Linked DNA regions of Homo sapiens: all the other regions are linked to region 1. Evidence: fine-mapped expression QTL. A gene starts in region 1. Each other region holds a variant in brackets. All regions are shown on one strand. Distances are from middle to middle.

Region 1 (2,766 bases):
TCACTTCCTAACACCCAATCATCCATAACCATAAGAGAACATCAATAACTCAGAAAGCAGTAATACTCCAAGCAATTTATATGTGGTACTAGCATACACCAAATAATTTATATGTAGTACTATATGTTTTTCTGGGGAACAAACTTTCTAATGTGTAGTTTAGACATAAATAGATGGAGTACATAAAAACTAAGTGATCAAAAAGGTGATTAGAAATAGAAGAATAATTATCTTGAACAAATACAAAGGTCCAGCTATAAAGTAGATAATCCACAAAAAGACACAGAATTGGGAACCAGGAGAAACTCAGACCCACAAAATGAAGCTTATCATGCAGAAGACAGCCCAAGAATCCTAGACAATTATTTGATTCATTCAACAAATATTTACAGAGCATCTAATTTACGGCAGGCAGACTTTCTGCGCTTATGTATTCATAGGAATAAAATTAATAAACCAACAACTCTCTCCCTTTCCTCTTCCACACCCACCTTATCGATAATGCTGTTAATAATGAGAGGATTTTTCAAAATGTGCTGCCCAATCCCCGTGTTGAACATGAGTCCTGTAAGAAAATACGAAACAGCATTAATTTTCCTACTGAGATTAGATATTAGGCAGTACCAGAGAAGAAAGCTGCATGGGTATGGGGAAGATTTCTGCGCCAACCAGGGCCACGAAACGTCACGCCAGGACTGACAAACTCTTTATAAGTTCATCCTCCAGCTGGAAAGGAAGTCAGCGGCGACGCGCAGGGCCTGCGGCCGAGTCGGGGACCCACCCCTGCCTTCCGCGCTCACGGGAGCGCGTCCTGACCGGCCTCTGCCGATCAGGTCTTGGTCCGCACCCCAGGCTAGGTCCTGCCGGAAGACCTGACCCGACCGACCCCAGCTTCCTCGCGGGGATCCGCACCTCCAGCGCTCTTCAGCTCCCGGCGCTGCTCCTGCCGCCCGCGGCGGCGGCCGATGGCCCCCGACTTGACCTTCGGCATCTCGGCAGAAAGCGGGCCCACAGGCCCGGGACGTCAAGGAGGACCAAAGAGGGCTAGCGTGAGAAAGCCACCACGTGGGGATCGCCGCCACGCGCCGCCCGCACCACTCTGGCCCAAGCGCCGGAGGGGCAAGGGTCCGCCCCCTCCCGTACGCTCTGAGCTCCTCCTCCAGAAAAAGGGCGGACCTTGGAGCCCACTGACTGCCGGGAATTGGAGTCACAGAGGGAGGAAGGCCGAACCGCGGGAGCCTACAGATCCCAGAAGACACCGCGCTACCGAGGACTGCAGTCTGGAGTTGGAGCCCTTGTCCCAACCAGGGCTGGATAAGAAGGTGTTGGTGTGGTGCTCTCGGTGTTGCGAAGGCTGTTTAAGTTATATGATGAGGTTAAGCCTATGGATGTTTTAGTAGCCTAGGTTCTGGGATCGCTGAGGTCCAAAGAAGTATTCACGTGCCTCGCTCCTGTTTTCCTGAAGCTTGTGGGGGTGGGAAACCCGGGATTTGGGGATGAGCTTGCTCTTTTGTGGGAATGCATTTTTTGCTGCTTGCCCTGGGGAAAAGAACTGCGAGAATGGAATTAACGTCTGGTTTCGCTAGGGCTACTGGTTGCTTCTACTAAGAATAGAAGAGCCGGGCGCGGAGGCTCACGCCTGTAATCCCAGCACTCTGGGAGGCAGAGGCGGGCGGATCACAAGGTCAGGAGATCGAGACCATCCTGGCTAACACGGGGAAACCCCGTCTCTACTAAAAATACAAAAAATTAGCCGGGCGTGGTGGTGGGCGCCTGTAGTCTCAGCTACTTGGGAGACTGAGGCAGGAGAGTGGCGTGAACCCAGGAGGCGGAGGTTGCAGTGAGCCGAGATCGCGCTACTGCACTCCAGCCTGGGCGGCAGAGCGAGACTCCGTCTCAAAAAAAAAAAAAAAAAAAAAGGAATAGAAGAATAATTATCTTAAACAGATACAAAGCTCCAGCTACAAAGTAGATAATCCACAAAAAGACAGAATTGAGAACCAGGAGAAACTCAGACCCACAGAATGAAGCTTATCGTGCAGAAGACAGCCCGTGAATCCTAGAAAATTATTTGATTCATTTAACAAATAATTCAACAAATTCCTTTTGTGCCTCATCATTCACTCCGTAAACATTTATTGAGCTCCAACTGTGTATCAAACACTGCTAGGGATTCTAAGTAAGAAACTTATTTCAAAGTGTATTATATTGACAGAGATGGACAGAAACTCCAAAACGCTGTAAATACGATAACGTATTGGTCGTTGTGACAGGACAGTGTACCTGACTATAAACTCCGTGTGTACCAGGGCCATAATATCCACATCTGTTTTGCCAGCCAGTGTAATGGCTCTTTTAAATTTTTCTGTGTGTATTCTGTTTGGTTGAAGAAATAGCTTCTTCCTGTCATTACTAAAGCTAACTCTCTTTTGAGCAATTCATTGTGTACATTCCCAAACCTTGGTCTTAGGCCCTTCTTTCTTTGATGTAGTTCTAAGTCAGAAAAAAAATCTCGTATACCCTAGTAGCATCTTCAAGTATATGTTTCATTTCATCAATCATTGTTATTCCACAATTCTAAAGAGTACACTGTGCTAGGCACTTCCAAATGTTAATAGGATGGACATGGCCTGGAGAGGTGGCTCATGCCTGTAATCCCAGCACTTTGAGAGGCCAAGGCGAGCGGATCACTTGAGCTGAGAAGTTTGAGATCAACCTGGGCAACAAAGTGAGACCCCGTCTCTACAAAAAATACAAAAATTAGCC
Region 2 (2,766 bases), 150 kb after region 1:
AGCCTGGGCGACAGAGAGAAACTCTGTCTCAAAAAAGAAAAAAGAAAAAAGACTATATATGAGATATTCAAATAAGATTATGCTGTAAGTCATTAATCTGTTAAGATTTATAAGATGTTGAAGATATGGTATACTTGACGAATATATCTACAATGGAGACAATTTTTTAAAATCTTTTGGTTTATGGCTGAAAACAAATATAACTATTTCTAATACAAGGAAATCCAGAATAAGGAAGTACAAATTTTAAAATATATGTAGCTTTTCTAGAATTAGACTAATCTAATTAGAGATCCCAACCCTTGTTTTGATAAATAAATAGGGTATATTTTTATTAGCTTATTAATTTTAATTGAAATGGGGTAATATATATTTTTTAGTTTTTTTTTTTTTTTTAAAGTAGAGATGAGGTCTTGCTATATTTTCCAAGCTGTTCTCAAATTTCTGAGCTCAAGTGATCTTCCCACCTTGGCCTCCCAAAGTGCTGAGATTACAGGATAACTAAAAATATTTAAGAACATAAGAGAGGAAATTAAAATTACCCAGAGGAAACATCAGGATGCCATTACTATGTATTTACTTTCTTGTTTCCATGAGGGGCCTGGTCATGTTTCCAACATTTCTTGAAATATATGTCCTTCTTCCCTTGCATTAGTTCATGAAGATTCAGTCTGAGATCACAATGAGTAAATATTTAATCACCAAAGTCATGGATTAATCTCTTAAAAATTTTTTTAATTGACACATAATAGTTGTAGACATTTATGGAGTACATAGTGCTATTTCTATACATACAGCATATAGTGATCAAATCAGGGTAATTGACATATCTGTCACCCCAAACACTTACTATTTCTCTGTATTGGGAACATACAACAGCCTCCTTCTAACTATTTGAAACTATATATTACTGTTAACTGTAGTTATCCTGCAGTGCTATATAGAACACTAGAACTTATTCCTCCTATCTATGTGTGATTTTTTTATCTTTTAACCAATATCTCTCTCTCTCCTCACTTTCCCCTTACCTTTCCCAGTCTAGTAACCACTATTCTACTTTCTGCTTCTTTGAGGTCATCTTTTTTAGCTTCTACATGTAAGTGAGAACACG[T/C]AGTATTTCTCTTTCTGTTCCTGGCTTATTTCACTTAACATAAGGCTCTCTAGCCTCACTCATGTTGCCATGAATGACAGGAATTCATTCTTTTTTGAGGTCGAATAGTATTCGTGTGAGTGTGTGTGTGTGTGTGTGTGTGTGTGTGTGTGTGTGTGTGATATTTTCTGTATCCATTCATCTGTAGATGGGTGCCTAGGTTAATTCCATATCTTGGCTATTCTGAACAGTGCTGTAATAAACATGAGGGAGCAGGTATCTTTTCAATACAATGATTTCCTTTCTTTTGGAGATGTATATATCCAGTAGTGAGATTGCTGGATCATACGATAGTTCAATTTGTAGTTTTTTGAGGAAACTCATATTGTTCTCCATAATGGCTACACTAGTTTACATTCCCACCAGTAGTGCCTGAGTTCCCTTTGCTCTACATCCTTTCCAGCATTTTTTTTTTTTTGCCTTTTTGATAATAGCCATTCTAACTGGAGTGAGATGATATCTCATTGTGGTTGTGATTTGCATTTCCCTGATGACTAGTGATGTTGACCTTTTTTTTGTTTGTTTTTGAGACAGAGTCTCACTCTGTCACCCAGGCTGGAGTGCAGTGGCACGATCTCGGCTTACTGCAACCTCTGCCTCCCGGGTTCAAGTGAATCTCTCGCCTCAGCCTCCCAAGTAGGTGGGATTACAGGCACCTACCACCCCGGCTGGCTATGGGATTTCACCATGTTGGCCAGACTCATCTCGAACTCCTGACCTCAGGTGATCTGCCCGCCTCGGCCTCCCAAAGTGCTGGGATTACAAGTGTGAGTCACTGCGCCTGGCAGATGTTGACCATTTTTTCATGTACCTGTTGGCCATTCGTATGTCTTCGTTTGAGAGCTGTTTATTCAGATAATTGTTCTACTTTTAAAATGGATTATTATTTTTATTTAGCTGTTGTTTGAGTTTCTTGTGTATTTCGGATAGTAATCCTTTGTTGGATATATAATTTGCAACTATTTTCTCCCACCCTGTGGGATGTTCTTTTACTCTGTTGTTGGTTGCTTTTGTCATATAGAAGCTTTTTAGTTTGATAGAATCCCATTTGTCTATTTTTCCTTTTGTTGCCTATGTTTTTGAGGTTTTATTAGTAAAATCTTTTCCCTGACCAGAGTCCTGGAGTGTTTTCCTTATGTTTTCTTCTAGTAATCTTATAGTTGTGGGTCTCACATTTTAAGTCTTTAGTTCATCTAGAGTTGATTTATGTATATCACGAGAGGTAGGGATCTAGTTTTGTTCTTCTGCATATGGATATCCAGTTTTTCTGGCACCATCGTTGAAGTAACTGTTTTTTCCCCATAAATATTCATGCTATCTTTTTCTTAAATCAGTTGGCTGTAAATGTATGGATTTATTTCTGGGTTCTCTGTTCTATTGGTCTGTGTGTGTTTTTATGCTGGTACCATGCTATTTTGGTTACTGTATTTGTAGTATATATACTGTATTTGTTATACAGACACACACTTTTTTGGGGGGGTGGGGGTGGGGAGACAGAGTCTAGCTCTGTGGCCCAGGCTGGAGTGTAGTGGCAGAATCTTGGCTCACTGCAACCTCTGCTTCCCAGGCTCAAGCAGTTCTCCTGACTCAGCCTCCCCAGTAGCTGGGCTTACAGG
Region 3 (2,766 bases), 230 kb after region 1:
TCAATCTTAACGATTAAATCTCAAGTCTCTTAGTGGGCTTGAGTCTCTGGCCTGGGACCTTCACTTGTGCTTCGTTTTGGAAAGCTTTCCTATCCCCCTCAGGTGAGACAGGAAGAGGAGAAATGGCTGGAGCGAGAGGAGTGCCTTTCCCCATGGCTCTAGAACAAGCCTAAAGCCTGGTTAAGTCTTTCCCCCGAAGAGTTTATTTTCTTTTATCATTTTTATTATGAAGAAAGCTCTGGACGTATTTCATAAGAATCACTCTTCCCCTCCTGCAAGAACTATGATGGCATCTTTCTCTGATCTTCACAATGAGAAACTGGTGGGATTCCTAGAGGTAATGTTCACAAAACCAAGAGGCTTTCCCCAAGACTGTTCCCAGAAGTGAGCCTACCAGTTTAGAGATCCAACACTTCTGCTCCAGGTAAGTTGATCTCAGCTTTGTCTCTGGATTTGCTGGAGACAGTTTGCAAACTCTGGAGACAGTTTGCCCTGTAATGAGTCCAAGTCATTGGTTTTCAGTTTGTCCAGCTTTTTCTTATAAAAGCAAAGAGTGACAACTTCCAAGCTTTTTATATGATGAAACTCATACAGGAAGTCCAACGTCTCCATGTGGCCTTCCATTATATAAATAACCTAACCCGAGCATCGGCAGAGGGAAAATTCCTCCAAAGACTTTTTGTTTCTGAAATAATTTAGAAAGAGCAGTTGAAAAACATAGCAAGAAAAACTTTCTGAGCAAATTACATGGTCAATTGCTTTTTAGTAACATTTTTTTCTCATTATAAAAGCAACACGTGCTGATGGTAAACAGTTGAAAATACGATAAGGTGTATTGAAGGAAATGTAATTTGCCTGCAATCTTACTAAGAGATAACCAGTTAACATTTTGCCGTATTTTATTTTTCATGACTGTGTATAGCTAGAAACACATACCTTTAAAATTGGAATCATTACTAGTGTTCTTTTATTAGCCTGTTGTCCTTTTCTTACCTGACTGTAATATTTAACCATTTTCCCATGTCAGTTAAATATTCTTTAGAAATATGTTTGGAGCATCTGCATAAAAATGTGTTATAAGGGAGTGTCATTATTTAACTGTTACCTGTTTGACAATAATACCACAATGACCATCCTTGTGCATAAATTCTTGTGTACAGCTCTTAAATTTTTCTTAAAGCTACTGGATACAATTGCTAGGTAAAGAGTTATCAATATTAAGGCGATATTAATATTCTAAGGCTTTTGATATATGCCAACTGTGTTTTGGGTGGTAAAGGTCTTCTTGAGAGAGGTGCCCTAAGAGGTGTGGTTTTTGTTTGTTTGTTTGAGACAGAGTCTCGCTCTGTCAGCCCAGGCTGGAGTGCAGTGGCACGATCTTGGCTCACCACAAGCTCCGCCTCCTGGGTTCACATCATTCTCCTGCCTCAGCCTCCTGAGTAGCTGGGACTACAGGCGCCTGCCACCA[C/T]GCCCGGCTAATTTTTTTTTTTTTTTTTGTATTTTTAGTAGAGACAGGGTTTCACTGTGTTAGCCAGGATGGTCTCAATCTCCTGACCTGGTGATCCGCCCACCTCAGCCTCCCAAAGTGCTGGGATTACAGGCGCAAGCCACCATGGACGGCCTCCTAAGAGGTGTTTTAAGAGCCCAGCATCACATAGGACTCATATTCTTCTCACCTGCATTTGACACCAGTGGGATGCTTCCTCTGACCACACCTTTTGTTGAGCACAGCATATTTTGTGACATTTGTATCATATTATGAGAAATAGTACAGAGGAAAGAATGCGAGCTTTATAATCAGCAACCTGGGTGCTGTGGTCAGAATGTTTGTATCCCCCTGAAAACTCATATGTTGAAATCCTTACTTCCAAGGTGATGAGGGTGGGAGGTGATTAGGTCATTGGGGTGGAGCCCTCATGAATGGGATCAGTGTCATTCTAAAAGAGGCCTTAGGGAAACCCCCCCCACCCCTCCCACCATGTGAGAACAGAACAAGAAAGCGCCATGTGTGAGGATGTGAGCCCTCACCAGACACTGAACCTGTAAGTGCCTTGACCTTGGACTTCCCAGCCTCCAGAACTGTGAGACATAAATTTCTGTTGTTTTTTTTTATAAAAGTCATCCAGTCTATGGTATTTTCTTATATAGTAGCCTGAAAAGACTAAGATACTGGGGTGAGTCTTTAAGTATCTACAACTTAAGTAACTTAATTTTCTTGAGTTGCTTCAATCTTCTCATTTGTAAAATGAGGATAATAGCTTTCTTTCCAGAGGTAGTTGTGAAAATTAAGTCATTCATTCAACTTTCATTGAATAAATGTTATTGAGTGCCTACATATAACAGGCACTATGCTGGGTGCTGAGGATACAATGATAAACAAAAGCAGAGAAGACTATTTTGTTTTGAGCTTTCTGTCCACCAGAGGAGACATCCATCAAATAAGCCTGCAAGTAAGTGTAAAAGTGGAATGGTGACCTGGAGCACTAAGAGCACCTGCAAGGCAGGTCTGACCTCAGGGAGTTAGAGAAGGGTAGGCAGGTCTGTGGAGGTGATGATGGGGTGGGGAGGTGTGAAGGATGAGGAGGTGACTGGATATTGGGCTAAGACACTGAGTCTTCTAGTCAGAGGGAACAACATGCAGAAAGGACTCTAAGAACCACAGGAAGAAGAGGAAGTATGGAAAGGCAATAAAAACAGATTTGCAATTTAAAGCCAGAATCTTGACTGCAACAGGTGGGGATGGTGGGGTGGGAGGAGGTGGGGAAC

What was found. PIP is the estimated chance that this variant, and not a neighbour inherited with it, causes the effect.
Region 2: its variant is the best candidate, but not a certain one, in a credible set for the expression of DIMT1 in whole blood (TOPMed, PIP 0.50).
Region 3: its variant is the best candidate, but not a certain one, in a credible set for the expression of DIMT1 in whole blood (TOPMed, PIP 0.58).

The regions. Positions count from the first base shown.
Region 1 is chr5:62,402,782-62,405,547 of GRCh38, forward strand. DIMT1 (DIM1 rRNA methyltransferase and ribosome maturation factor) reads right to left here and starts at 1,124. Exons shown (of 12, transcript NM_014473.4): 1 at 913-1,124; 2 at 492-565. The coding sequence starts at 991. RefSeq lists an enhancer at 1,045-1,334.
Region 2 is chr5:62,552,094-62,554,859 of GRCh38, forward strand. All of the region lies in intron 26 of IPO11 (importin 11), which reads left to right. Among named protein-coding and RNA genes, the nearest start is that of IPO11-LRRC70, 25 kb to the right of the region's middle. The variant T/C (reference allele first, on the strand shown) is at 1,112.
Region 3 is chr5:62,636,737-62,639,502 of GRCh38, forward strand. No RefSeq gene overlaps it. Among named protein-coding and RNA genes, the nearest start is that of LRRC70, 59 kb to the left of the region's middle. The variant C/T (reference allele first, on the strand shown) is at 1,469.